Linked DNA regions of Homo sapiens. The protein of the gene in region 1 purifies or fractionates together with the protein of each later gene. This does not show direct contact. Each region holds a gene or a part of one and is shown in the gene's direction. Other genes may lie near its edges. The genes, in order: FZD10, VPS8, EIF2B3 and HEATR3.

The links.
Region 2: the proteins of FZD10 (region 1) and VPS8 purify together in Homo sapiens (co-immunoprecipitation; 3 studies listed by BioGRID and IntAct, with this or other methods). This does not show direct contact.
Region 3: the proteins of FZD10 (region 1) and EIF2B3 purify together in Homo sapiens (co-immunoprecipitation; 3 studies listed by BioGRID and IntAct, with this or other methods). This does not show direct contact.
Region 4: the proteins of FZD10 (region 1) and HEATR3 purify together in Homo sapiens (co-immunoprecipitation; 3 studies listed by BioGRID and IntAct, with this or other methods). This does not show direct contact.

What each region holds. Positions count from the first base shown.
Region 1 is NC_000012.12:130,157,490-130,165,692, forward strand, and holds the start of FZD10 (frizzled-10 precursor), read left to right. Parts: upstream 1-4,974; 5' UTR 4,975-5,453; coding exon 5,454-7,199; 3' UTR 7,200-8,203. UniProt on the Homo sapiens protein: Receptor for Wnt proteins. Functions in the canonical Wnt/beta-catenin signaling pathway.
Region 2 is NC_000003.12:184,815,081-184,822,330, forward strand, and holds part of VPS8 (vacuolar protein sorting-associated protein 8 homolog), read left to right. Parts: intron 1-703; exon of another isoform or gene 704-1,801; intron 1,802-2,041; exon of another isoform or gene 2,042-2,364; intron 2,365-5,627; exon of another isoform or gene 5,628-5,652; intron 5,653-7,250. UniProt on the Homo sapiens protein: Plays a role in vesicle-mediated protein trafficking of the endocytic membrane transport pathway.
Region 3 is NC_000001.11:44,871,397-44,878,646, reverse strand, and holds part of EIF2B3 (translation initiation factor eIF2B subunit gamma), read left to right. Parts: intron 1-2,951; coding exon 2,952-3,029; intron 3,030-3,820; coding exon 3,821-3,969; coding exon of another isoform or gene 3,970-4,006; exon of another isoform or gene 4,007-4,120; intron 4,121-7,250. UniProt on the Homo sapiens protein: Acts as a component of the translation initiation factor 2B (eIF2B) complex, which catalyzes the exchange of GDP for GTP on the eukaryotic initiation factor 2 (eIF2) complex gamma subunit.
Region 4 is NC_000016.10:50,061,324-50,069,086, forward strand, and holds the start of HEATR3 (HEAT repeat-containing protein 3), read left to right. Parts: upstream 1-4,646; 5' UTR 4,647-4,808; coding exon 4,809-4,946; exon of another isoform or gene 4,947-5,001; intron 5,002-5,043; coding exon 5,044-5,216; intron 5,217-5,318; exon of another isoform or gene 5,319-5,659; intron 5,660-7,456; coding exon 7,457-7,544; intron 7,545-7,763. UniProt on the Homo sapiens protein: Plays a role in ribosome biogenesis and in nuclear import of the 60S ribosomal protein L5/large ribosomal subunit protein uL18 (RPL5). Required for proper erythrocyte maturation.

The sequences.
Region 1 (8,203 bases):
TATATTCCTCCAAAAACAGTCCAGTACAGAATTGCAGGTTGAAGCACTGTGAATAGGCTCTAGGTTTGCCCCAGGTTAAGGGTTAATTTGTTGAGTTTCAGAACAGGTAGGCGACGCCCTCCTGGATTTTAAACAGATAACGTCCTTGCCATGTAAGAGCACTTAGAAGGCTGGCTTTATCTCTTTAAAAAAAAAATATATATATATATATACACACACACACACACACATATATACACACACACATATATATACACACACATATATACACACACACATACACACACACATATATACACACACATATACACACACATATATACACACACATATATACACACATATATACACACATATATACACACACATATATATACACACACATATACACACACATACACACACATATATACACACACATATATACACACACATATATACACACACATATATATACACACACACACACATATATACACACACTATATATATATATATGATTGTGTTTGTTGTTGTTGCAGTTGCAGAGATGAAAAAGAAATCTGTGTCTTTAAATGAGGAGGGGCTGCGTAAGGAGGCTTGGGCAGCAAAAAGGCTAATACGCTGTGGAAGAGAAGGAGTTTAATCTAATTTAGTTGGAGGGTGTCTGTCTGCGGTGTTGTTTTTTGGAGTGTGGGAATAGAGGCGGGAAGCTGCCCCCTTGAATGGTCCCTCCTGAGCCAGGAGCAGTGGGGAGCCAGTCGACGCCAGCGATCCAAAGCCCGGCCTTGAAAGAGGATTAAATCAATGCTCTGATTTGCAATTCACACTAGTGCACCCCGTGGAACCTTTGGTAATATTTCAAACCACATTTCAAGGGAAGTGGCCTTAAAATAGCTGCCTAAATTGTGCTGGAGCCACACTGGACACCCCACTCATCCACTTTAGGATGGGGGTGCTTCGGGGTTCATTTCTCACCTTCCCCCAAACCTCCACATCTCACAGCCAGTGTTTTTAGGCAGAATTAAAACTTTTGCGCCTGTTGAATTCGCTGCGACTTGCATGGCCTTTCTGGTGGTACAAACTGTGTTTTCTTTGCTAAGTATCACTTCAGATCACTAAAGGTATTTTCCCTGGAGAAAAAGATGGGGGCACGCCACGGGGAGCATGCCTACTTGATCAGAAAACATAATTTTTTGTGCATGTTTTATATCTGATAAGTTTCTGCAGAAACTTGATACTAGATGAGGTCAGAGAAAACAAGGTCTATTCACATCAGACTTCCCTGCATGTGAAGCAATTATTGGTAAATAGATCAGTTTTCATTCTCATACTTGAAGGTAGAATTGGAAATGTCCCGGACTAAATACAAACATTGACGACACGAGAAGACAAGAGAAGAAACACAAGAATCACTTACGTGGATCCTCACACTTGAATGTACCAAGAGAGGTGATTCAAGCAGCAGCTACTGAAAGGCGTTGCGACAGCCTGAACCACTTTTTATCTCAACATTCACCAGCACGATTTTACTTCTGTTTATGAGCTTTCTTCCTATGCCACCAGTTTACTCTTGCAATTAGCTTGTAACATGCTAAGCTTATGGTTTAATTTCTTTCTGTTGCTGAAAGACTCAGTACTTTTTTATCTTAAAGAGATTATTTGGGTTTTCTCTAATCCCATTTCAGAAAACCTCGCACAGTGCTTATAATTTCCATTGACTATTACATAATAAGAAAAGATACAACTTTGATTTTTAGCAATATCCGTGTCAAAGTACTTTTATACTTTTGACTTTGTGAGTTTAAATGGAATGAAACTGGGCCTCTCTTTCAATTCCCCTCCACCTCCAAAAAATATTTAGTTCTTGTTCAAAACACTGCCTGACTCCTGAAATATTCTCTCTCAAAAACCTCATACTTTCCCTGGTGAACGTTTGCAAGAACCTGAAGGCGGATAATGTTTACTGATAGCTTTCCGATAGACAGACATTTTTAGGTGGTTGGGGGTAAAAACATATTCCTTGTCTCTGCACGTTATGTGAAATCATGTTTAATTATAAAGTTTCATTAAAAATCTTTGCTCAAAATTTTAGAAGCCTAATAAGATTTCCATTAATTTAAACATATCACTATTCCCACGACGGCTCCAAAGCTTTCTTTTCCGTCTTTCATCCATGGTTAAATATGTAAATAAAATGTCTAAAGTCATTCTTCAAAGAAGACAAAAGAAAAAAGAGCTGAGGGAAAGACAGCCATAAAATTCCTCCCAATTCTCCATAACATTTGCCAGAGGGGGGTCGGTTGCCAGCCAGGGCTGAGCAGCGGGGGACCCCGGCTGCTCCTTAGACTCACACATCTCAAATCCCACACACAGGAAAAAAAATAAAATAAAATATCTTTTCAGCTGGGGCCATCAAAAGAGCCTTTTCATTTATTAGTTACAGACTTATCTTCCAGTTGCTGATTTCTCAGAACCCTCATTTCTCTATAATAAAGTCTATTTGTTGGTTTCCATCTCAGCTGGACAGGGCGAAGCACTTCTGCAGACATTTTTATAAAAAACGAGAGAAAAAGGCAATCTGAAGTGGTTATAGCTAAAATAATGGGCCTGAACGTGGCTGAATTAAAACAGCACAGAAAAGATCAATTAGGAGGCACTTTCTCAAATAGCTCACACCCAGCTCCCGGCGTTTGGCTCTCACTCTTGCACTAAATATTTCTAATAGTTGCTGAGGGAGAGACACAAAAAGGAAAAGAAGGAAAATAGGGCCCAGGAAGGACCTTTGCCAGGAAAATTCTAGAAAAGCCAAGTGATTTCCGCTGAATTAATTTTAATTTAAAGGTCCTGAAAAATTACTCACTAGACAAAAAACAACAACAACAAAAAAAAAAACACTATAATAAAAATGGCAGTCTTTCAAAAATAAAATCATGCAACTTTTCACTTGGGAAATAACACAGTTGAAGGTGGTGTTCTAACTGCCCGGAGTTTCTACCTTCTTTTTCACTTTCTCCCTCACCCCGACTTCCTCCAGCACCTCCTAGTGAGACCCAGGACACCCAGGGACAGCGACCCAGGGGTGGGTGCCTGAACCTGCCTATTAATTCTGGGATTCTGGGCGCTCAAATGTCTGTTGAACGGATGAATGAATGAGTGGAAAGGTGAGATTTCCCCAAGTTTCTTACCGATGTAAAAATTGTAGGGCTTGTTTTAATTAAAAGCCAATACTCTCCGAGGAAGTGGCCCCCTCCTGCACGGCGTGCAGAAAGCTGGTCAGTGAGGGGGGTTCCTGGCGGGCCCCATCTCCTTCCCGGGCGCTTCCTAGGGAGACCTTGCCCCGTGCGCAGCGTCCCCACCGCGGGGGCCCGTGCAGCCGCCCCCCACGCCGGGTGGAGCGCCGCCAACGCGGGAAGCCCCAGCACTGCCTCCAAAGATGTCCGCACACTCCACCCTGCTCCCTGGAACTATCCTCAAACGGGCAGGGGGCAAGCGAGGCCGGTGGACGCGGGACTCGCTCCTCTGACCTCTCCCCGGCCCCCCGGGAGGTAGCGGGAGATTGCACACGCGATCCTGCGAGTTTCCGAACTTTGGAAGATCGTGACCCGGAGAGACCCTGGGAGGAGAGGGCCGGCCACCTCCTAGGGGTGCTGTTTTTTTAAGGGTCAACCCAGGACGCTACGGGAAGCACCTGGCGCATCCTTGGGAACAGTGGGGCTTGGCGGTGGGCGCCCACCGCGAACGCCCTGGGCGGGGGAAGGGAATGGCGGGGGGACGTCGTGTCCTAAGTGACCCCGTCACAGACCCGCCCCAATCCGAGGGGGGATGAGCTCAGAGGACCTGCCCAGGACGCTCCTTCTCCACTTTCCAGGAAAACCGAGCGGCGTGCGCGCCTCCGTGTCCTCGCGGGAGCTGGGGGTCCCCGGGCAGGCGCTGACGCGCTCCTCCCACGACCCACTCCATCCCACCCTACTCCGGGTCCTCCTGCGGGGCTGCAGCCAAGGAGGGCGCTGGCCGGGCACATCACTCGCCAAATCACATAAATACCCCACGAGCGAATGACTTCCTATAATAAATAAACTCAGCCGCCAAGAAGGCATCTCCAGCCCTGCTGGCGCGAGGCCCCGGCTCTGCGGCTTCGGAGGGGGCGGGGGTCACCGCGGTACAAACCAAGCCCGCACTTCCCGCGGGGTGGGAGGCGGTGTTCAAAGTCCCGGGACGCTTCCCGCCCCTCCCCCTTCCCGCCTTCTTAGAGGAGACCTCGGATGAGCGGCCCTAAAATCCGGATTCTCGAGCCCCTCCCCCTCCCCTTAGCTCGTCTCTTTGAAATTTCAAAGAAAATCCCTCCTCGGAGCCCGGAGCCCGGGGCTGGTAGCACCTCCCCAGCCTCAGGAAGATGCGGGCAGGTTTACAAGCAAGGGCCTACTTTATGGCCCAGGCTATAAAACGCAAATCCCACCTCCCTTTGAAAGCGCCCTCCGCCCGGGACTCACCATAAAAGGAAGAGAAGATGCACCCCGCGCCCCTCGCCGCGGACCACCCCCAAACCCCTTCTCCCGCCAGTCCCCGAACTTCCCGTAACCTCGGCGTCCTCGGGGTGCCGGGGACCATCCCGGGGACCGCCGGGAAAGGGGGCGCCGGCGGAGAGGATAGCGAGAGGCAAAGTTGGAGGCCAGGCAGAGAGAGGGCGAGGAGAGGCGGGCGGGACTGCCGGGGAGGGTCGCAGCGCGCAGAGCCCCGCGCGCCAGGCGGGCTGTCCCGGGGCTGGCGGGCGACGCGGGCGGGACTAGGCGCTGCGCCCCCCGCAGGCTGGGCTGCAGGCCGGGGGGGATCGGCCCCCGCGGGGCCCGGGAGCCCGCGGCGGGGCGGCGGGGAGGAGGCTGCCCCGGGCCGCTGCGCTTTCTCATGCAAAGCAGCGGCGGGGCGGGGCGCGCGGCCCGGGGGCGGGGCCTGTCAGCGCTCGGCTTTTCTGCCCCCCTTTGCCTTTTTGCGAGTCTTCTCATCCCGGGACGCAAACCTCGAAACAGCTGCCGGCTGGTCCCGGCCGAGGCCGGCGCAGGGAGGGAGGAGCCGCCCGGGCTGTGGGGGCGCCGCGAGCTGGGCCGGCCTCGGTGTGCCCGCGCCGCCAGCCCGCTCCAGACGCGCCACCTGGGCGCTCCAAGAAGAGGCCGAAGTTTGCCGCGGCCGTGAGTTGGAGCTCGCGCCGGGCCGCTGCGCCGGGAGCTCCGGGGGCTTCCCTCGCTTCCCGGTATTGTTTGCAAACTTTGCTGCTCTCCGCCGCGGCCCCCAACTCGGCGGACGCCGGGCGCGGAGAGCCGAGCCGGGGGCGCTGTGCGCAGCGCTCGGGCCAGGCCGGGCGGGCATGGGCGGGGGCCCGAGCAGGGGTGGAGAGCCGGGGCCAGCAGCAGCCCGTGCCCGGGAGCGGCGGCGCTGAGGGGCGCGGAGCTCCCCGCGAGGACACGTCCAACGCCAGCATGCAGCGCCCGGGCCCCCGCCTGTGGCTGGTCCTGCAGGTGATGGGCTCGTGCGCCGCCATCAGCTCCATGGACATGGAGCGCCCGGGCGACGGCAAATGCCAGCCCATCGAGATCCCGATGTGCAAGGACATCGGCTACAACATGACTCGTATGCCCAACCTGATGGGCCACGAGAACCAGCGCGAGGCAGCCATCCAGTTGCACGAGTTCGCGCCGCTGGTGGAGTACGGCTGCCACGGCCACCTCCGCTTCTTCCTGTGCTCGCTGTACGCGCCGATGTGCACCGAGCAGGTCTCTACCCCCATCCCCGCCTGCCGGGTCATGTGCGAGCAGGCCCGGCTCAAGTGCTCCCCGATTATGGAGCAGTTCAACTTCAAGTGGCCCGACTCCCTGGACTGCCGGAAACTCCCCAACAAGAACGACCCCAACTACCTGTGCATGGAGGCGCCCAACAACGGCTCGGACGAGCCCACCCGGGGCTCGGGCCTGTTCCCGCCGCTGTTCCGGCCGCAGCGGCCCCACAGCGCGCAGGAGCACCCGCTGAAGGACGGGGGCCCCGGGCGCGGCGGCTGCGACAACCCGGGCAAGTTCCACCACGTGGAGAAGAGCGCGTCGTGCGCGCCGCTCTGCACGCCCGGCGTGGACGTGTACTGGAGCCGCGAGGACAAGCGCTTCGCAGTGGTCTGGCTGGCCATCTGGGCGGTGCTGTGCTTCTTCTCCAGCGCCTTCACCGTGCTCACCTTCCTCATCGACCCGGCCCGCTTCCGCTACCCCGAGCGCCCCATCATCTTCCTCTCCATGTGCTACTGCGTCTACTCCGTGGGCTACCTCATCCGCCTCTTCGCCGGCGCCGAGAGCATCGCCTGCGACCGGGACAGCGGCCAGCTCTATGTCATCCAGGAGGGACTGGAGAGCACCGGCTGCACGCTGGTCTTCCTGGTCCTCTACTACTTCGGCATGGCCAGCTCGCTGTGGTGGGTGGTCCTCACGCTCACCTGGTTCCTGGCCGCCGGCAAGAAGTGGGGCCACGAGGCCATCGAAGCCAACAGCAGCTACTTCCACCTGGCAGCCTGGGCCATCCCGGCGGTGAAGACCATCCTGATCCTGGTCATGCGCAGGGTGGCGGGGGACGAGCTCACCGGGGTCTGCTACGTGGGCAGCATGGACGTCAACGCGCTCACCGGCTTCGTGCTCATTCCCCTGGCCTGCTACCTGGTCATCGGCACGTCCTTCATCCTCTCGGGCTTCGTGGCCCTGTTCCACATCCGGAGGGTGATGAAGACGGGCGGCGAGAACACGGACAAGCTGGAGAAGCTCATGGTGCGTATCGGGCTCTTCTCTGTGCTGTACACCGTGCCGGCCACCTGTGTGATCGCCTGCTACTTTTACGAACGCCTCAACATGGATTACTGGAAGATCCTGGCGGCGCAGCACAAGTGCAAAATGAACAACCAGACTAAAACGCTGGACTGCCTGATGGCCGCCTCCATCCCCGCCGTGGAGATCTTCATGGTGAAGATCTTTATGCTGCTGGTGGTGGGGATCACCAGCGGGATGTGGATTTGGACCTCCAAGACTCTGCAGTCCTGGCAGCAGGTGTGCAGCCGTAGGTTAAAGAAGAAGAGCCGGAGAAAACCGGCCAGCGTGATCACCAGCGGTGGGATTTACAAAAAAGCCCAGCATCCCCAGAAAACTCACCACGGGAAATATGAGATCCCTGCCCAGTCGCCCACCTGCGTGTGAACAGGGCTGGAGGGAAGGGCACAGGGGCGCCCGGAGCTAAGATGTGGTGCTTTTCTTGGTTGTGTTTTTCTTTCTTCTTCTTCTTTTTTTTTTTTTATAAAAGCAAAAGAGAAATACATAAAAAAGTGTTTACCCTGAAATTCAGGATGCTGTGATACACTGAAAGGAAAAATGTACTTAAAGGGTTTTGTTTTGTTTTGGTTTTCCAGCGAAGGGAAGCTCCTCCAGTGAAGTAGCCTCTTGTGTAACTAATTTGTGGTAAAGTAGTTGATTCAGCCCTCAGAAGAAAACTTTTGTTTAGAGCCCTCCCTAAATATACATCTGTGTATTTGAGTTGGCTTTGCTACCCATTTACAAATAAGAGGACAGATAACTGCTTTGCAAATTCAAGAGCCTCCCCTGGGTTAACAAATGAGCCATCCCCAGGGCCCACCCCCAGGAAGGCCACAGTGCTGGGCGGCATCCCTGCAGAGGAAAGACAGGACCCGGGGCCCGCCTCACACCCCAGTGGATTTGGAGTTGCTTAAAATAGACTCCGGCCTTCACCAATAGTCTCTCTGCAAGACAGAAACCTCCATCAAACCTCACATTTGTGAACTCAAACGATGTGCAATACATTTTTTTCTCTTTCCTTGAAAATAAAAAGAGAAACAAGTATTTTGCTATATATAAAGACAACAAAAGAAATCTCCTAACAAAAGAACTAAGAGGCCCAGCCCTCAGAAACCCTTCAGTGCTACATTTTGTGGCTTTTTAATGGAAACCAAGCCAATGTTATAGACGTTTGGACTGATTTGTGGAAAGGAGGGGGGAAGAGGGAGAAGGATCATTCAAAAGTTACCCAAAGGGCTTATTGACTCTTTCTATTGTTAAACAAATGATTTCCACAAACAGATCAGGAAGCACTAGGTTGGCAGAGACACTTTGTCTAGTGTATTCTCTTCACAGTGCCAGGAAAGAGTGGTTTCTGCGTGTGTATATTTGTAATATATGATATTTTTCAT
Region 2 (7,250 bases), on another chromosome or scaffold:
TTAGAGGCAGTAACACATAGGGAACTGTCATCTCTTATGATAACAGTGCCTTCTGGAATACCTCCTGAAGGACCTGCCTGAAACTGTTTTACAGCTAATTTTTAAATTTTTAAATAAGTGGATGAGTACACTCTAAAGATAAAAAGTATAGGATAGCAAATACATAAACTGGCACATAGTTTATTATCAAGTATTATGTACTGCACATAATTGTATGTGCTTAGCTTTTATACTACTGGCAGTGCGGTAGGTCTGTTTACATCAGCATCACCACAGACAGATGAGTAATGCATTCATTACAACAGCTGTGACATCACTGGGCTACAGGCATTTTTCTGCTCCATTATGTGTAATGTTAGGGGACCATGGTTGTATATGTGGTCTGTCGTTGACCCAAAACGTCTTTTTGGGGCACATGACTGTATATAAATGCATAAAAGATGTGACTGCAGATGACTCCTGTGTTATGCCATCCAAGATTAAGCACCCTAGAATAAAGAGAAATTCCAGAAGTACCTTGATTGGCCACATAGGACCCAAGAATGTGATGTGCCTACTCTTCTGCTCCGCTAGCTAGGCAGATAGGGTACTTGATTGGCAGCACCACCAAAATCACATGGTTGGAATGGAGGAGAAGCAGTTGCCCTCCAGGAAAGGTGGCAGTGGTGCTGGGGTGTTTTAACCTTTGTTTTTTCCGTTGCAGTTCAGCAAGACGCTTCCAGTTACTTCCTGCTCTTAAAAAAAAAAAAAAAAAAAGAATAAATCTCTCATGACTCTATATCCTTCTTGACACCTAACCAAGAGAAATTGAGATGACAGTTAATTGCAAATTAATAAAGAAGGCCATCATCTACTCAGCCTTTACCTAAGTGGAATCCTGTCTTTTGCGCATTTAACTTACAAGAATTTACCTGCATCAGTCAGTTATGTGAAGAAGAAAAGGGAATATATTTCAGCGTACACAAGGCCCTTGTGCTTTTTAGGAGGAGTTCTTTGGAGCTGAAGTGGGTCTGAGAAGAGACATTCTCATGATAGTGGAGACAGTATTATAGAAGCTGGAAGTGATCATTTTTCTCTGTTATTTATTTCACTTATTACCTCACACACATATTGATATAAAACTGATCAATAAAGTTAGAATTTCTACATTATCTAGATATTTGTAGACTTCGTTCATATTATTGTTTTGTATATTGTGATAGGGGATTAGATTTTTCTTTTCTAGGCTGGAGCTGATTGTCTGACAATTCATAGCAGTAACTTAGCACTCACTGTATACAGGAAGGTCTTAGGCACTGTTCCTTCCCCTTACTTTTCTTTTTAACATTTTTTAATCTGTATGTACTTATGATCACTCTCCTCATTTAGACATTCACCAACAACAGAAAGAGAAACAGAGGGTTGGGCTTTTTCGTCGTGGCAGTTCTGGCACTGTGAGCTACAATTACCTAAATGTGCCTTCTTGGAAAGAAATTCCAGGGTCAAGTAAAGCAGCCCATCCCAGTATATAGTAATGTTTCTCTAAATAGGGTCTGTATCTAAATGAATAAGGTGAAAATTGAGTACCCTCAAAGTACCCCAAGAGGGAGTCATATCAGAGACTGACAAGCGGTGGGTCTCTCAGGAAGCCCCATACGGCCAGATCTTGTTTTTCCATGTTGGAACTGCATGGCGTTTGTTATTTTGAGCACAGGTGACGTGAACTGCTTGGGTGTGAGGCATGTGAGAACTGAGACATAGAACAGCAGCTGACCATCTCCTATTCTGTGCCCACTGTGAAGCAAGAAGTTATTGAGTGGAGGTATGCAGAATCATGAATCATGATTCATAGAATCATCTATATGAATCATTTCTTTCTCTCCTTCCCGTTGCTGAAGATAATAGATGAAATCCTGCAAATTGAATGGAAGTATGGTACATTTCCACTGTATTCATCTTGGCCTCTAAGCTGAATTAACGTAAAAGAACATAAAACATCTGAGATTGTGGGATTTGCATCATGTTATAAATGAGCTAAGTGATTTAAAAATATCTCTCCTAGATGCAAAGAATGGAACTTGCACAGATGGAGGCGTTTTGGAGTAGTGTAACTAACCATACTTTGTATTACGTGACCAGAACTGCTATTTGAGATTCTGGAAGCCAGTGATGCAGTCTTGCTTGGGTATTTACCTAGGGAGGGAGGGAGGGAGGGAGGAATGGGTGGATGGGTAGATGGGTGGGTTGATCAGCTGCTGTGTCATATCGGCACGGGGAATAGAATGGTGAACAAGGCAGATCTGGTCTTTGCTCTCTCATGGAACCTGCATTCCAACTGGGGGCAAGGAATGGTGGTTTAGACAATGAGGAAATCATTACAATGTGGTAAGTGTAGTAAAAGAGGAGAACGATGTTATGGGTGCATACTAACAGGAAACAGCCTAGTTGAGCAGGGCAAAAAAAGGCCTTCCTAAGGAAGCAAAGTTTTAGCCGATAGTTGATAAATATGACCTGCAGTGGTTGACAAGCTTGACTACATATAAGTAGTATTCAATTATAACTTGGCTTCTTATGGTATAGATTCCTATATGCTGTGAGTCAAATAATATCCTCTGGAGCTTAACAATTACAAGTAATAACACTGATAGATTTAATTTGCAACACAGATGTTATTCCTGTCTCTTAGTTCCTATGTTAATCAAACATTTTTCGAATGTCTACCTAGCTGTGCAAGCCAGTAAGCCCAGTGATGTGGAATATTCAAAGGAGCATGGCCCCATTTTTATTATATAGCTGGGGAGAAAAGAGTCACATGGTAAATTAACTAATGAATCAGCATGAGGAAAGAGCCAAGCCACTGTTTTAAAAGAAGACATGTTTTCTGAATTCAGAGGATGGTTAGGGAAGGAAGAGGTCATAGGCAGATCCAGTTTGAACGGTGCCCAGAAGGAAGAAAGGAAGTTAGATAAATGTAGAGAAAAAGGAAAGGAAAGGGAAGGTGAATCAGCTTGAGCAGACATGAAGGGAAAGTGGAAGCTATTCATGAAGGACTCTTAGTGCAAAAATAATAAATTCAATTGTAAGGGAAGGAGGCAGAAGGATCAGCTCGTGTGATATCTGGAGTCACAGGCTTAGAATTTGGGATTTTATCCTGGAGGCATTGGGAATCTGTTAAAAATAAGTCCACTTGTGCTGGGCGTGGTGGCTTACACCTGTAATCCCAGCACTTTGGGAGGCTGAGGCGGTCAGATGGCTTGAGCCCAGGAGTTTGAGACCAGCCTGGCCAACATCATCTCTATGAAAAATTCAAAAAATTAGCTGGGCATGGTGGTGTGCGCCTGTAGACCCAGCTACTTGGGAGGCTGAAGTGGGAGGATTGCTTGACCTGGGAGGCAGAGGTTGTAATGAGCCGAGCTTATGCCACTGCACTCCAGCCTGGGTGACAGAGGGGGAACCTGTCTCAAAAAAAAAAAAAAAAAAGTCCATTTGCCAGAAGGTAATAGAAAACTAATAGAAGTTAACCCACCATTGCATTTTATTTTTCCCTTTACAAAGCAAACCACAAAACAAAACAAAGGAATGAAGAGAAATGCTTGGATTGGGAAGGCCAAAAATAAAATTTGCATGTAATGTTGTACTATATCATGATTTTGTGATTGTTTTCTAGCATTATATAGTAAATAAAAACTTGATTCTATTTCATTGTAATGTGAAAAAGTATCTCATATGACACTTTTAGGAGGAAAAGAATGTCAGGATTAAACAGGATCATGGAGCTTGAGAACAGTTAGGAATAAATGTTTCCCAAGGTGAAAACTGGTGAAAAGCCAGGCATGGTGGCACAGGCTGGTAGTTGCAGCTACTTGGGAGACGTGAAGTAGGAGGATCGCTTGAGGCCAGGAGTTTAAGGCTAACCTGGGCGACATAGCAAGATCCCATCTCTTAAAAAAAAACTGGTGCAAGTTTAACTTGGCGTAATATAGGTCACACATTCTAGAGTTCTTATTCAGTTAGCCAGTGTCATAATTAAGTCATTGCTGTTTATATGGCGCATATCTTTTTTTAATGGTCCTTGAATCTATTAATTGGTTGGGAATAACAATTAAGAGGAAATAACAGAATTATCAAGATGTCAGATAATCTTATGTCTGAACTATTAAAATACTCATTTATCAGCACTCAGAAGAGACAGCATACTGGGTAATTATGATTCCATGACATGTATTTCCTATCAGATTAATCTGATTTCATTCTAAGAGAGACTAAGAAATCATGAAGCCTGTTTTGTTATGTGCAAGTACTCTCTGGTATGGTATCCTCTTAAGAACTATAAAAACACTAGCTCACATGATGGTTGGGTGAAGAACTAGTTGTAGAATTGCATCCCAGCAGGAATTTATGAGTGGTTCATTATCAACCTTTTACTGGGATAACATTTAAGGGATAGCTGAAGCAGGATCAGTATCAAGAGTGAAATATTAAGCATCATATAGTAAGCATTCCATCATTGGTGCATATATTGGAATGAAGGGCCTGCTTAATAAACACATGGGCAACACCAACCCACAAGGTAAGGGTTAATATTTCAGAATGTTGGATATGTGACCAGAAACAAATTAACTTATATTTATTAGTACAGTTGACCCTTGAACAATGCGGGGGTTAAGGGCACTACCCCCTCAACCAGTGGAAAATCTGAGTACAACTTGTGACTCCCCAAAAACTTTACTACTACTACCTACTGTTGAGCAGAAGCCTTACTGATAACATTAACAGTTGTTTAACACATATTTTGTGTGTTATTTGTATTTAGTTACAATAAAGTAAGCTAAAGAAAAGATATTAAGATTCTAAGGAAGAGGAAATATACTTGCTTTTCATTACGTGTAAGTGGATCATTATAAAGGCCTTCATCCTTGTCTGAACGTTGAGTAGGCTGAGGAGGAGGAGGAGGGGTTGGTCTCACTGTCTTGGGTGGAAGAGGCGGAAGAAAACCCACTTGTAAGTGGACCCTTGAAGTTCAAACCTGTGTTGTTCAAGGATCCACTGTCTATTCATTTCCTATTGTTGCCGTAAATTACCGTAAAGTTAGTAGTATAAAACAATGCAGATTTATTTTACAGTTCAGTACTTCACAAGTCTCACCCCAGTCTCACTAAAATTAAGAGATCAAGACGACTTCAGTCCTTCTGGAGGCTCTCGGAGACCATCTGTTTCCTTGTCTTTCGCAGCTTCTAGAGGCTGCCTGCATCCTTGGCTCCTGAGCCCTGTTCTCCGTGTTCAACGCCTGTGACATGGTGTCACATCTCTTTCTCTGGCGTTCTCTTCTGCCTCTCTCTTCCCCTTTCAAGGACCTTTGTGATTACATTGGACCCACCCAAATCATCCGGAATAACCTTCCTGTCAAGGTCTTAATTTAACCTGCAAAATCCCTTTTGCCATATCAAGTAACATATTCATGGTTTCTGGGGATTAGGACTGGCATTGTTGGATACCCTCATACTGCCTACCACTGGTAGATTCCCAGCTTAGGTACTTTCTGAAAAATTCACAGAAGCTGCTCATGTGAACTCTCCTTTTAAAAAAAATTTGAGCATGGTGACCTTTTGATTCACCAGGTCTCTTTGAGTTGGAAAAACTTACTGACTAAAATGAAGAAAGGAATAATTGCTGGTAAGTGACAAAAGAGGAACTTGGGAAGGGGACATAGTTGGCTTCACTAATAAAGTGTAGACTAATGTTGATGTTAAAAAAAACCTAAAACATGATTTTAGAATGAGTTAGTAACAATAAGACACTTCTGTTATAATTAAAGTTTTTATTAAGTGTCTCTGTTGCTTTGGTGGGGGCTGTACTAGTCTTAGACAAAACCCCTATCATTCAGCTCATGAAGAACTGCTGTGATATCCAGGATATCGTTCTGATATGCTTAGCACTGGCTAGACCTTTACAAAAATACTGGATTTTGTTTTAGAATCTTTAACTTTAGAAAACTTTGAAAATTTTGAGGTTTTAAATGTAATAGCTAATATCTGTTGAAAATTATGTCCAGACATTATTCTCAATGCTTTGTAATCATATCATTTGTTCCTCACAGGAGCCCTGCAGAGTAGGTAGTTGCATTTATAAGAGCCAGGACTCTCAATTTTAAGTGCTAAAAGAAAGGGGGAAGTTGGGAGAGTATATGTTGGTTTATGTAGCCAGACTGCCAGAAGGCTATGGGCAGAGCTAACTTCATAGAAGACTAGAATCTGAGGCTTGAATAATGTCAGAACTTTCTTCTCTACTTTTTTTTTTTTTTAGAGACGGAGTCTTGCTCTGTTGCCCAGGCTGGAGTGCAGTGGCGCGAACTTGGCTCATTGCATCCTCCGCCTCCCGGGTTCAAGCAATTCTCCTGCCTCAGCCTCCTGAGTAGCTGGGACTACAGGCACACGCCACCACGCTTGGCTAATTTTTTTTTTGTATTTTAGTAGAGACGAGGTTTCACCGTGTTGCTGCCCAGGCTGGTCTTGAACTCCTGAGCTCAGGAAATCCACCCGCCTCAGCCTCCCAAAGTGCTAGGATTACAGGTGTGAGGCACTGTGCCTGGCCTCTACTTCGTTTTTTTAGATAGGTTTCATGCTTGCTAGAGAATCTGTACCTAGAACCTAAGTTCTATCAATAGAGGTTCATCTCCAGTGACAGATGCTTAGTGTTTAGTTAGGTGTGTGTTAAGTGAATGATTTCTTTTCTGCAGAAGCGAGCTGGGTGGGGAATGTGGGATCTGCTCAGCCACATTATTCATTGTATAGAGAACAATGGAAATATCTCTTCCTCATCAGTTCCATTTTAATGAATCCTGGTGAAAGACTCTGGCTATCACATAATCCCTTATACTAAGGGATTTTTGACCATTAGCCTCTACGAGAACACATGGTTTGAAGGAGCCCTTCCCAGAACAAGAGACGCTGTTCTGAGCAAACAACACAAATGTCCACAATATTCCATTTTAATGATATAGAAATAGAGAGGTTCAGAAAAGGTAAACAAATTAACCAAGGTCACAGATAGGAACTCATAAAGTCCAGATTCAGACTTGATTTATTTATTTTATTTTTTGGGGGGTCAGGGGTGGGGAGAAGTGATTATTTCCTGGTCATTTCTAAGAAAAGTGGCCACAACAGCAGACCTAATAATAGACTCTTTGGCTTGTGTTCTGTCCACTTTGCCAGCACATTACATTGGTAAAAGGAGCTCAGTGAAATGAAGGTCAGAAATGGGGCAGGGTAGCT
Region 3 (7,250 bases), on another chromosome or scaffold:
TGTGAAAATATAATTGCAGGTGTAGACCAGGGTGGCAGTGGAGCGCAGAATAATATAAAAGAAATTGTTGAAAATTGGGATTGAGGCCGGGCACAGTGGCTCACGCCTGTAATCCCAGCACTTTGGGAGGCTGAGACGGGTGGATCGCCTGAGGTCAGGAGTTCGAGACCAGGCTGGCCAACATGGTGAAACCCTGTCTCTACTAAAAATACAAAAATTAGCCAAGCATGGTGGCATGCACCTGTAATCCCAGCTTCTCAGGAGGCTGAGGCAGGAGAATTGCTTGAACCTGATAGGTGGAGGTTGCAGTAAGCTGAGATTGTGCCACTGCACTCCAGCCTGGGCAACAGAGTGAGACTCTGTCTCAAAAAAAAGAAAAAGAAAATTGGGATTGACTCCTGAAGAAAACCTGGCTCAGGAATCTGTAGGACCCACACCAGATAAAACCTCAGGTGAGCCTCAACCTGTATTGGTTACAGATCCAAGGGAGTCCCAAGCCAGAGAGCTTATGAGAAATCATAGCTAGTCCCACATTTACCCATGACTAGCATCTTTCACGCTGGTCTGGAAAGATGTTCATGGATAACCTGAGTGGGAAGACTTGTCCAGATCACAGGTGCACCGCTGTGTCCACATCATGAAAGAGGGACCCTGCTCTCGAGTGAGCATGCTGGGAAAAGTATCCTTTGAAGTGCCAACAGGGACTATGCAGCAGACGGGCCTGAAGGGCCTTGGGTGGAGTGTGGAAGAAGAGAACCTAGGGCTGGGGGCTTGGAATTAGCCTTCACATTCCAGTGTAGCCGTGCTGACAAGGCCTCCGTCAGCTAGTGTGGCTGCCACGCACAGTGCTCTGACCAGCATTCTGTCTATGCTGGAGAATCATAGACAGGCGCACTACCTGTGCCTTCCTAATAGACTGGTAGCCAAAGCCCCCCATACCTCTAACCTTTCCAGGTTTCTCACACTGGAGAGGGAATAGTGTGAACTTCCCCTTCATGTTTTCTTTTGGCTGGGGGATAGATGCCTTCTCAGGGTCTGTCCTTGATTTCGAATTTGTCTAAAATGGATCTCATCCTCACCTCATGCGTGGTCACAGTGGTCCAGGAGGTGACCAGGAACCCAGGATGCTTATGATCAGGATGCGGGGTGTTCCTTGACCTGATCAGGCCTCCTTTCCCAAGAGGTGGTATGTGGGTATCTCAAAGACTGGTCTCAGTGCCTCCCAGCCAAGGGACATGGCATTACTTTCAAGGAGGAGCATTCAAAGCTAAGAGACTGACAATAAGGCCATCTAGAAGCTGCTGCATAAATAATCTTGGTCCTAGGGGGAATGCAGCAGCCTCCTGCTCCCCCTCACTCAGACAGGAAGCTATGGCTGAGAACTCCCTGTATCTCTGATTGAGCACTGGGTTCTACCTAAGGTGTTTTTTTTTTTTTTTTTTTTTTTTTTTTTTATTGATCATTCTTGGGTGTTTCTCGCAGAGGGGGATTTGGCAGGGTCATAGGACAATAGTGGAGGGAATGTCAGCAGATAAACAAGTGAACAAAGGTCTCTGGTTTTCCTAGGCAGAGGACCCTGTGGCCTTCCGCAGCGTTTGTGTCCCTGGGTACTTAAGATCAGGGAGTGGTGATGACTCTTAACGAGCATGCTGCCTTCAAGCATCTGTTTAACAAAGCACATCTTGCACCGCCCTTAATCCATTTAACCCTGAGTGGACACAGCACATGTTTCAGAGAGCACAGGGTTGGGGGTAAGGTCGCAGATCAACAGGATCCCAAGGCAGAAGAATTTTTCTTAGTACAGAACAAAATGAAAAGTCTCCCATGTCTACTTCTCTCTACACAGACACAGCAACCATCCGATTTCTCAATCTTTTCCCCACCTTTCCCGCCTTTCTATTCCACAAAACCGCCATTGTCATCATGGCCCGTTCTCAATGAGCTGTTGGGTACACCTCCCAGAGGGGGTCGTGGCCGGGCAGAGGGGCTCCTCACTTCCCAGTAGGGGCGGCCAGGCAGAAGCGCCCCTCACCTCCCGGATGGGGCGGCTGGCCGGGTGGGGGGCTGACCCCCACCTCCCTCCCGGACGGGGTGGCTGCCGGGCGGAGACGCTCCTCACTTCCCAGACGGGGTGGCTGCCGGACGGAGGGGCTCCTCACTTCTCAGACGGGGCGGCTGCCAGGCAGAGGGTCTCCTCACTTCTCAGACGGGGCGGCCGGGCAGAGACGCTCCTCACCTCCCAGACAGGGTCGCGGCCAGGCAGAGGCGCTCCTCACATCCCAGACGGGGCGGCGGGGCAGAGGCGCTCCCCACATCCCAGACTATGGGCGGCCGGGCAGAGACGCTCCTCACTTCCTAGATGGGATGGCAGCGGGGAAGAGGTGCTCCTCACCTCCTAGATGGGATGGCGGCCAGGCAGAGACGCTCCTCACTTCCCAGACGGTGTGGCGGCCGGGCAGAGGCTGCAATCTCAGCTCTTTGGGAGGCCAAGGCAGGCGGCTGGGAGGTGGTTGTAGCTAGCCGAGATCACGCCACTGCACTCCAGCCTGGGCACCATTGAGCACTGAGTGAACCAGACTCCGTCTGCAATCCCGGCACCTCGGGAGGCCGAGGCTGGCGGATCACTCGCGGTTAGGAGCTGGAGACCAGCCCGGCCAACACAGCGAAACCCGTCTCCACCAAAAAAATACGAAAACCAGTCAGGCGTGGCGGCGCGCGCCTGCAATTGCAGGCAGTCGGCAGGCTGAGGCAGGAGAATCAGGCAGGGAGGTTGCAGTGAGCCGAGATGGCAGCAGTACAGTCCAGCTTTGGCTCGGCATCAGAGGGAGACCGTGGAAAGAGAGGGAGAGGGAGACCGTGGGGAGGGGGAGTGGGAGAGGTAGAGGGAGAGGGAGAGGGAGAGCTACCTAAGGTGTTTTCTGATCTTTAGTGACCAAATCTCTGTCCTTAAGGTGCCCAAATTGCTGTCTGCTCTCTGTCCAGAAGAACCACCAGTCCATTCGTCAGCCCAGATTGTCAGCAAACACCTGGTAAGTGCTAGTGTGGCCAGGACGGGCATGAGATGTTCTTTGGGAGCATCGAGACTTGTTTTTGAGAAGCCGGATTGAGGCCTTTAAGTCCTGAACCTCATCAGCCCCAGGGAAATCACAGTGGGTTCTGAGAATAAAATCTCACTCAACAAGACTGCCTGGGCAAGTAATGACCTTGTAAGGAAGGGTCCATTATAGTGTTGGGACTCAGACACAGGAGCTCTCAATCTCAGCCTGAAAGACTCTAGTCATGGGTAAATGTGGGACTACCTATGATTCTCATAAGCTCTCTGGCTTGGGACTCCCTTGGATCTGTAACCAATCCAGGTAGAGGCTCACCTGAGGTTTTATCTGGTATGGGTCCTACAGATTCCTGAGCCAAGTTTTCTTCAGGAGTCAGTCCCAATTTTCTTTTTCTTTTTTTTTGAGACAGAGTCTCACTCTGTTGCCCAGGCTGGAGTGCAGTGGCACAATCTGTCCCCCTTCTAACTCTGATTTGAGCACACTCTTTAAGAGAGCACATCTGTATACACAAGTGCATGAGTGTGTATATGTGTCTGTTGTTTTATTTTGTTTTCTTGGCAAGAGAGGAGGGCCCATGCTTCAAATAGGTTTGAGTTGGTCTCAGAGGTGTTGTATGACCTTGTGGCCCTGAGAAATACTGATCATGGTCCCTCTTGCTGAAGTGTCTCTATGGAAAGATCCCATTAGATCCCAGCTTGAGGGATCTGGAGGGTGGTTTGCAGTTGGTTGAGATGGGTGGACAGAGTTTTATATTTTGCCTTTTACAGGTTGGAGTTGACAGCCTCATTGGGCCAGAGACACAGATTGGAGAGAAGTCATCCATTAAGCGCTCAGTCATTGGCTCATCCTGTCTCATAAAAGATAGAGTGACTATTACCAATTGCCTTCTCATGAACTCAGTCACTGTGGAGGAAGGGTATGTTTCCCCCTGTACCCACTTGAGGCAAAGATAATGGAAAAATGCCTTCAAAATTCTGAAGGAAGGTTAATTTTAACCTAAAATTGTATACCCAGGCAAAGTGCTAATCAAGAGGGCAATAGAATAAAAACATTTTCAGATATCAAAAGTCTCAAAAACTTTACTAGGAAATTTATTCCTCTAAAATGGAAAATAAACCAAACAGAGAAAGATCAGAAACAAGAGATTCAACTCAGAAAAAGGGCAAAAAGAATCCATGGGATAACAGTGAACAGAGATAAGAATGACAGCTCTAAATGGGGCATAAAGGGATTAGTTAATCCAAACTGGAACAAAACCAAAGAATCCAGGAAAGATTTATTCAGCAAGATGCAACTGATAAAATACCAGATACATACAAACATTTGAAAGTCGATTTAGGCAACTGGCTAAAAGTTTGAAGTTGAATCGGGGATAACATAGAAAAAACAACACTATTTAACAAAAACAAGACTGTTATTAACTCTGGGAAAATGAAGAAGTTGTACAAGTTGAATATCCCTAATCCAAAAACCCAAAATCAAATGCTCCAAAATCCGAAACTTTTGAGCACCAACTTGACACTCAAAGGAAATTCTCACTGGAACATTTGAGAGTTCAGATTTTTGGGTTAGGGATGCTGAAACGGTAAGTATAATGCAAATATTCAAAAAAATTTTAAAAAATCCAAAATCTAAAACACTTCTGGCCCGGCACAGTGGCTCATGCCTGTAATCCCAGCATTTTGGGAGGCTGAGGCAGGTGCATCACCTGAGGTCAGGAGTTCGAGATTAGCCTGGCCAACATGGTGTAACCCCATCTCTACTAAAAATACAAAAAAAAAAAAAATTAGCCAGGTGTGGTGGTGTGCACCTGTAGTCCCAGCTACTCAGGAGGCTGAGGCAGGAGAATGGCTTGAACCCAGGAGGCAGAGGTTGCAGTGAGCTGAGATCGCACCACTGCACTCCAGCCTGGGTGACAGAGCAAGACTCTGTCTCAAAAAAAAAAATAAATAAATAAAAAATAAAACACTTCTGGTCCCAAGTATTTCAGATAAGGGATACATAACCTGTATAAGAAATGAAAAGACCATAGTTTGCTATGGATCAGCTACAAAATAGAATTTACATAGTCATAATAAACCTGACTACTGGCCAAAGTTATGCTATAACTCTATTGAAAGGATGAAAGATGGAAAGGGAAATGGGGGTAAGGGAGAAAGGAGAGCTAAATTCTCATTTTTCACTGTAGAAAGCCAATTGATAATGCCTAAAGCTGAAAAATAAAGAACTAGTAATACAATTATGTTAATACCTAGAGGCATGGAAGTAATACCAAATTACTCAGCAGAAAGAATTAAAAGAGTTGCCTCTGGGAAGAGGGAAATGAGGAATAGGGGTTGCAGGGGACTGCTGATTTTCATAACAAAATCTTCAGAAGTATTTGCTTTAAACTACTAATATCAGTTGGCCAAAAATATCCAGAGTTTTGTGGTACGCTGCTACCAGTGGTATGCTGATAAATTGTTGACAACCAGCCCTCCAAAGGAAAAAATAAGCGACATAATTCGAAACATTTGCTAATTTCTGTGGTGTAAATTATTCCACTATAGCCAATGATATCACCTAACGCTGAGTTGAGAAGAGATGCTAATAATTGCCTCTCCCAAGCTAAAACAAGCCAGCGTCAGCACACCACTAATAGAGACCCCTCTCAAGCATTTCACTGATTTATCAGATACTAACAGACCCACTCTCTGATTAAGATTGTGCTAGGCAGTGAAAGAAACAAAACGACATAAGTCTTAATCTCTTCCCTCAAGGAATTTATACTATGTGCAGTAAGAAGTGATAGGTGCTATGGTAGAGATCTGTAAGGTCAGAAGGGAGGAAAGGGTCAGGAAAGGCTTAAGGAAATGACCCTTGAGCTGAATCTTGGAAAATGAGTAGAGCCACCTGAGCTGGAGAAAGGAGTGGTTTTGGGGGTAGTGTTTTTTTGTTTTTTTTCAAGACAGGGTTTCCCTCTGTTGCCCAGGCTGGAGTACAGTGGCATGATCATAGCTCACTACAACCTCAAACTCCTGAGCTCCAACAGTCCTCCTGCCTCAGCTTCTCAGGTAGCTAGGACTACAGGCGCACACCACCAGGCCCAGCTAATTTTTTTAAAAAATTTTATAGAGATGGGGATTTTACTGTGTTGCCCAGGCTGGTCTTGAACTCCTGGCCTCAAGCAGTCCTCCCACCTCAGCCTCCCAAAGTGCTGGGATTACAGGCATGAGCCACTGCACCTGGCCAGAGGTATTCTAGATACATAAAAAGTGAAGTGGCCAGCCACATTGGCTCATATCCATAGTCCCGGCACTTTGGAAGGTCGAGGTGGGCAGATTACTTGAGCCCAGGAGTTTGAGACCAGCCTGGGCAACATGACGAAACCACATCTCTACAAAAACTACAAAAATTAGCCTGGAGTGGTGGCATACATCAGTAGTCTCAGCTACTCAGAAGGCTGAGATGGGAGGACCGACTGAGTCTGGTATGTCAAGGCTGCAGTGAGCCAAGATTGTGCTACTACACTGCAGCCTGGGTAACAGAGTGAGAGCCTGCCTTAAAATACATACATATACAAGAATTAGTTGAGCATGGTGGTGTGCACCTGTAACCCCTGAGGTGGGAGGATCAACTGAGCCCAGGAAGTGGAGGTTGCAGCAAGCAATGATCATGCCACTGCACTCCAGCCTAGGTGACAGAGTGAGACCCTATCTCAAAAAAAAAAAAAAAAAAAAGATTGTGAAGTATGAAAGAGCATATCTTATTCCAGAAACATCTCCCTATTTTGATCTTAGCTCAAATGTCACCTCTTCAGAGGAACCTTCCCCAACTACCCTATTGGAAATAATCTGTCCCACTAACCACCATCACATCAACCTGTTTCATTTCCCTCATAACACCATCACTATTTAGTCTTATCTTTACTTGTCTCTCACAAGTAAAACATTAGTTTCAGAATGTAAGTGCCTTATCTCTCTTGTTCACTTTTATATCCTGAGGGCCTACAGGAACTCAATAAATATTTGTTATATGAAAGAATGACAAACAATTCACCATGACCAGAATATAAATCAGAGAGGGATGGATACAAGAGACAAGGCTATACATGCAGATGGACAAGGGCCAAGTAATGGATTGTTCCCTGAGGCGTTTGATAGGTAATGGTAATTTAAGAGCTTAAAGCAAAAGAGCAGCATGATTAAATTAGCATTT
Region 4 (7,763 bases), on another chromosome or scaffold:
ATTTGTCAGACCAATAATTGATGACAAGCTTATTTCCAACTTGTCTCAAGGGAAGAGGCTTCTAAGCAGTCTAATTCAAAAATTCCCTCTTGACAAAGATAATTTGCAGGAAAAAGGGATGGTTAGATAATCACTACTTCACTGCATTTTAAAAAATGACTGGTGAAGGAAGATTAGACTGGTTAAAGATCACTGGGCTCCTTCCAAGACTGACAATTGACTGAGGGTGGCTCCCAGAAGGGCTCTTAAGCTCATTAAATAAAGCTAATTACTCATTTTAGCAGCAATGGTAATTTATCACTGGAAAGAGTAACTAATGATAACAGACCACAAAGTTCTGCTCTAGCTATGGTATTTATACGTATTTATATTTTTTAAGAATTTAGTTTTATTTTTTGAGACAGGGTCTCACTCTGTCACCCAGGCTGGAGCGCAGTGGTGTGATCTCGGCTCACTGAAGCCTCCACCTCCCATGCTCAAGTGATTCTCCCACCTCAGCCTCCCAAGTAGCTGGGACTACAGGCACACACCACCGCACCCAGCTAATTTTTTAATTTTTTGTAGAGATGGGGTCGCATTATGTTGCCCACGCTGGTCTTGAAATCCTGGGCTCAAGTGATCCAGCCGCCATGGCCTCCCAAAGTGCTGGGATTACAGGTTTGAGCCAGTGAACCTGGCCGAAGACTTTATTTTTTAAAGCAGTTTCAGGTTCACGGCAAAAAGAGGAAAGTACAGAGATTTCCCACATACTCCCAGCCCCCACATATGCACAGCCTCTCCCATGATAACATCTTCCACCATGATGCATTTGTTACAACCATGAACCTACACTGACATGCCATTATCACCCCAAATCCGTAGTTTACATTAGGGTTTGCTCTAGGTGTTATACATTCTAGACGTTTGGAAAAATGTACAATGACATATATCCACCATTATATCATCTAAAGTATTTTCACTGCCCTAAAAGTCCTCTGTGCTCATCTAGTTAAGGTTTTTTTTGTTTGTTTGTTTTTGAGACGGAGTCTCGTTCTGTCGCCCAGGTTGCAGTGCAGTGGCATGATCTCAGCTCACTGCAACCTCCACCTCCCAGGTTCAAGTGGTTCTCTTGCCTCAGCCTCCTGAGTAGCTGGGACTACAGGCATGTACCACCATGCTTGGCTAATTTTTGTATTTTTTGTAGAGACGGGGTTTCACCATGCTGGCCAGGCTGGTCTGGAACTCCTGACCTCAGGTGATCTGCCCGCCTCAGCCTCCCAAAGTGCTGGGATTACAGGCATGAGCCCCCGCGCCCAGCCTGAGTTTTGAACCACTTTTTTCTTGCTCATCCTCACAGTGAGAGAAACAGGAGGAATCTGTTTCTATCTCATCTAAATTCTCGTCATCTTATTCCATCTAGATTTAATGCCCTATTCTTTCCTACGTGGTCACTCCATTCATTCAAGAAATTGCATGACTATCTTGTGCCAGGCTCTGGGCTAGTGTTGGGGATACTGTGATGTGTGAAAATGGGCACTGTCTTGTCTTTATAGGTGCTAGTGTTCAGCTGGGGAGAAAGGCAATTGTATAACCGTTCACAAAGAAATTGAAAATTACGACTGTAATTTTGATATGTGCTTTGAAGCAAAGAAACGAGGTACATGCTGTCTCAAGGGAGACCTGTCTCTCACTACGAAGTCCCTGTCTCTGCCTATGAAGACTGTGTTCACTAGTTCATAGGGTAGGGGCTGGGGTTTGTGCAAACCCCTGAGGCCCCATAGATGTTGGCTAAAAGAGCAAAATGAAGAGGTGAGGCTGGGGGCCGGGGTGAAACCCTGCAGCCCTGGTAAGATTTTGATCTTTATCCAAAGAGAAAGGGAAGCCACTGAAAAGTTTTTTGTTTTCTTTGGTTTTTTCTTCTGAGACGGAGTCTTGCTTTGTCACCCAGGCTGGAGACCAGTGGTGTGATCTGGGCTCACTGCAACCTCTGCCTCCTGGGTTCAAGTGATTCTCCTGCCTCAGCCTCCTGAGTAGCTGGGATTACAGGTACGTGCCACCACACCCAGCTAATTTTTGTATTTTTAGTACATACATGGTTTCACCATGTTGGCCAGGCCGGTCTTGAACTCATGACCTCAGTGATCTACCCGCCTCAGCCTCCCAAAGTGCTGGGATTACAGGCGTGAGTCACCATGCCCGGCAGCCACTGAAAAGTTTTAAGCGAGGAAGTGAATACAATATAAGGAGAAAGGTGGAGGGATATTTTGAGATCACTCTAGCTGCTCAATGGATGGGGGACAGGCAGGGTGGAAATGGAGAGACCAGAGAGCCACGTGCTCAAGATAAAAGACAGTAGCCTAGGCCAGGCGTGGTAGATAACGCCTGTAATCCCAGCACTTTGGGAAGCCGAGACTGGTGGATCACCTGAGGTTAGGAGTTCGAGACTAGCCTGGCCAACATGGTGAAACCCCATCTCTACTAAAAATACAATTTAGCTGGGCGTGGTGGCATGCACCTGTAATCCCAGCTACTCAGGAGGCTGAGGCAGGAAAATCACTTGAACCCAAGAGGCAGAGGTTTCAGTGAGCCGAGATCATGCCATTGCACTCCAGCCTGAGCAACGAGAAAGAGACTCCATCTCAAAAAAAACAACAACAAAAAGACGGTTGCCTGGACTAGGTGGGTGGCAGGCAGATCGATGGCCTGATAAAATATACAGGAAGTAAAACCCACCAACATATATTTAGTGGCTCCAAGGTTGATTTTTTTTTTTTTTTTTTTTTTGAGACGGAGTCTCGCTCTGTCACCCAAGCTGGAGTGCAGTGGCGTGATCTCGGCTCACTGCAACCTTTGCCTCCCAGGTTCAAGAGATTCTCCTGGCTCAGCCTCCAAGTAGCTGGGACTACAGGCACATGCCACCATGCCTGGCTAATTTTTGTATTTTTAGTAGAGATGGGGTTTCGCTATGTTGGCCAGGCTGGTCTTGAACTCCAGACCTCAGGTGATCTGCTCACCTTGGCTTCCCAAAGTGGTGGGATTACAGGTGTGAGCCACAGTGCCCAGCCCAAGATTGATCTTTGATAGGCCCAAATGCAACATGAGCTACACTTCTGTTACTCTCTAAAATTTGCCATAGTAATTAATTTCCCTTACTGGACAGTCAACTCTTTGACAGTAGGGTTACCATGGAATGGAAATTTTCTCCAGTAGAATGTTGACCTGAGCCTGGGCGTGGTGGCTCATACCTGTAATACTAGCACTTTGGGAGGCTGAGGCAGGCAGATCATTTGAGATCAAGAGTTCGAGACCAGCCTGACCAACGTGGTAAAACCCCGTCTCTCCTAAAAATAATAATAAAAAAAAAATAGCTGGGCATGGTGGCACATACCTGTAATCTCAGCTACTTAGGAGGCTAAGGCAGGAGGACTGCTTGAACTCCAAGGCAGAGGTTACAATAAGCCGAGATCGCACCATTGCACTCCAGCCTGGACAGCAGAGTGAGACTCTGTTTCAAAAACAAAAAGAAAAAAAGAAAATTGACCCAAAGCTATGCATATATTGAGTACTCACTCGTTACATGTCTAATTATAAAGACCACCTAAGATTCTCCTGTACTTTTCCCTCTGCTTAGTATTTACCACAATTATAACCAAAGTTATTCATATAATTATATATTCAACAGATCTCTCCCTGGACTGTAAATTCCATAAGGACAGGGAGAGAGGACAGGAACCAAACTGTCTTGATTACTGCTTTATTCCAATGCCCAGCACTGTACCTAGTACTCAACAAATATCTGCAAAAGAATCTCTTTGTTAAATACGTTTCCAAACATTTACATAGTGCTTAGTATCTGCCAGTCTCTGTTCTTAGCACCTTAAACATATGAACACATTTAGTCTTCGTAACAACTCCATGAGGTATATACTATCGATGTCCCCACTTCACTGATGAGGAAACTAAGGCAGGGAGATTAGGTTCTTAAGCGATTCTGTTTTATCAAATATAGACACACATTCGTTCCAAAACATTAACTAGTCTCTGTCTACGACAGGAGCTATGGGAGGTGCTGGGGACACAAAATAAAATCGTGGTTAATGCTTTTTGAGTACCTGCTATATATCAGGCTTGGTGTTAGGCACTTTACAGAACTTTATGAACTTTACAGAACTTACAATAACCTTGCAAGTTAGGTATTCTTAATCACATTTGATTATTTGTAGCCGGTGTTACTAACTTATTGGTTGCTTGATTGATTGATTGAGACAGGGTCTCGCTCTGTCGCCCAGGATGGAGTGCAGTAGCAGGATCACGGCTCACCTCAGCCTCAAACTCCTGGGGTCAAGTGATCCTCCGGCTTCAACGTCCCAAGTAGCTGGGACTACACACACACGCCACTATGCCCAGATAATTTTTAATTTTTTTGGTGGGGAGGACAGGGAGTGGAGTGTTTTCCTATGTTGCCCAAGATGGTCTCGAACTTCTGGCCTCAAGTGATCCTCTCGCCCGGGTCGGCGTTACTATTCTAGTCCAACCTCCTACTTACCCGGTAAACCCACAAGGCTCCGCCCCTTTGCCGAAGCTGGCCCCGCCTATGCCCTCTTCCACGCCTGCGCGCTCCGTGCGCCAGTTCCCCCCACCCCGCCCCGCCCCAACCCCGACCCGGCAGACGACGCGCCGTGCGCCTGCGCACGGCTTGCCCATGTGTGCTGCAGCCGTCAGCCGGCCCAGCTGAGCAGCAGCAACGGACCTTGTTAACGGCGCGGCAGCCTCCACCGCCTGCTGTTGCCCTCCTCTCTCGGTGGTCTGTCCGCCCAGCGCACGTCACCATGGGCAAGAGCCGGACGAAGCGCTTCAAGCGACCTCAGTTCTCCCCTACGGGCGACTGTCAGGCCGAGGCGGCTGCGGCGGCGAATGGGACCGGAGGCGAGGAGGACGACGGGCCGGCGGCGGAGCTGCTGGAAAAGGTGAGGCGAGGGCTCCGTCGGGCCGGGAGGCGAGACGAGGTTGCCCCGCGCGCGTGCGCATTGCGCGCCTTCTGACCCTTTTCGCTCTCATCCGCAGCTCCAGCACCCGAGCGCCGAGGTCCGCGAGTGCGCCTGCGCAGGGCTGGCCCGGCTGGTGCAGCAGCGGCCGGCACTCCCGGGCCTGGCGCGACGAGACGCCGTGCGCCGCCTCGGGCCGCTGCTGCTAGACCCCAGCCTGGCCGTCAGGGAGACTGCAGCCGGCGCGCTGAGGTGAGCCAGGAAGGGTGCGGGGCGGTGCCCACCGCTGGCCTCCCCCGCGTCTGGGCTGCGGGCGGTCGCAGCGGTCACCCAGCGCCTTCTGTGTGCCATCAGGCACTGGCCCGGTCTCCCGTTTGCAGAGATTTGAAGCCAGTCTCCAGGCTCCGGAGAAGCCCAGTATCCCCGCATCTCATCTGTCCACCTGGCTGCTTCACCTGCAGCGTCCACCTGCTCAGGCGTCCTGCCCTCACGCCTTGCGCACGTTTTACACTCTCCAAAAGCCCTCCTTAGGGTCCCTTGCTTGGATGAACTCTTCAGTTCATGTGTCAGGAATCGTTCTAGATGCAGGGGACTTTGAGCAGCCAAGACTTTTGAGCGAGATCTGTTGACAGCCAAGATCCCTGTCTTGGCACAAGTCATGTTGATGGGGAGACAGACAGGAAGCTAGTAAAAAGGTAAAACATAATATTAAATAGTGAGAATTGCTGTGGGAAAACGAGATGATGATGAGTTGGGGGTGGGAAGTTTGAATTGGGTGCTCTTGGGCCGGGCGCGGTGGCACACACCTGTAATCCCATTGCTTTGGGAGGCCAAGGAAGGAGGATCACTGGAGGCCAGGAGTCCAAGGCCAACCTGGGCAACATAGCAAGACCCCGTCTGTAGAAAAATTATAAACAATTAGTCGGGCATGGTGGTGGGTGCCTGTAATCCCAGCTACTCAGGAGGCTGAGGTAGGAGAATCGCTTGAGCCCAGGAGTTCGAGGCTGCAGTGAGCTATGATCACACCACTGCACTCCAGCCTGGGTGATAGAACAAGACCCTGTCTCAAAAAAAAAAAAAGGTGCTCTTTAGATGACTTGTGAAAGGAGATGTGCAGGGTGAGAGAGCCAGGAGGCATGGGAAAATAGGGGGAAGAATATTCCCCACAAAGGGAGCAGCAACAGCAAAGAAGCGAAGCAGCAGGCAGCTTGACGTGGTTAAACAGCAGAGAGGGTAGGTAGGTGGCTGAGAAGAGCAGGGGTGGGTAATTACAGGAAGTGAGGCTGGAGAGAGGGATGAGCTGTACGATGGTGTAGGGCTGAGGACTTAACTCTAAGCAGGGAAGTGACATGCTGCAACACATTTTGTGAAGACCACTCTGCTGGTTGTGCAGAGAATGGACTGCAGAGGGGGCAAGAGTAGAGGTTAGTATTTGTAGTTCTTACAGCTCTGTCTCTGTTTGTTATTTATATTTCATTCACTGATATAGCAAATATGTATAAAGTGCCAACTGTGTGCCAGACACTGAGCTAAGCTGTGGGCATGGGGTAATGAGCAAGGCAATGTCTCTCCTTAAGAAATCTTAAAGTGTATTGAGGGAGACAAGCATTAACCAAACAGTTACATAAGTGTATGATTACAATGAATGGTAATGACAAAGGGTGCTAAAAGAGGGTACAAACAAAGGGTTCAGGGAAGAAGACTGAGTGAGTGGTGCTTGAGGTGAGCTCGGAGGAATGAATGGGCATTCACCAGTTGATGGAGGGGGGATAGACGCTCTTCTTCCTTTAGGGAGGAAACAGCATGTGGAAAGCCCTTCCCTTCCTCCCACAGCATACAGAGGCTGGGGGATCCTGGCACATTGTGAGGGCATCTTCTGACTATCTCCATATCCTTAGGGACTAGCACAGTGCTGTGTACTCGGAAGTCATGTCTTTCCAATTAAAATTTACCCAGGGCTGCTTTAGGGGGTGTCATTCTCAGTAGCCCCACCTTGCTGCCCTTGCAGTTCGCTTTTTATTTTATTTTATTTTTTTAGAAACGGGGTCTCCCGCTGTTCCTAGGCTGGTCTTGAATTCCTGAGCTCAATTGATCCTCCCACCTAGGCCTCTCAAAGTGCTGGGATTACAGGTGTGAGCCACAGCACCTAGCCCTGCCCTTGTAGTCTTGATTCCAAGAAAAGGTCCCTTCATACATGATGTGATTTATTCACATGAGAAAAGTCTCCCCTCTCCCCTTCTTGTAGCCATGCACCTGTATACTGTTTCAGACCTCAGAACTAAGTTATATGACAGCGTCGTCTGTTTATATCTTGTAGAACATGGATCAGAACAGATGGAAATCTCTGGATTGGTTCTGCAGCGTATGACAGAAACAATAAGCTATTTCCTCTGGGAAACCTTAAATATGGCTAAAAATAGAAATGTGAGAGGGTAGAAGTGTTCTGTGACATGTGATGTGAAAGTAAAACATGTTTTAAACTTCTTGTGTAGAAATCTCAGTGCTTGTGGAGGTTTTGAAGTTTGTGATGACATGGTGACTAAGGATATCATGACCCCTCTGGTTGCGCTGCTAAAAGAGGTATGCAGTTTTTACAGTATCTTGATGGTAGCTTTTGGGATGCAAACTTAGACTTTTTTTAGTACTTTGGTGTTGGTGACTTTGTCTTCTATCTAAACATCTTATGGAAATTTCATTCCTTTTCCTGGAAACACCAATCTGCTCTCATTATTGATACTAATCTCTATTATTTTGTAGCTTTATTTTTATGATAGTTGGAAAAGACTTTCCTAAAATTGT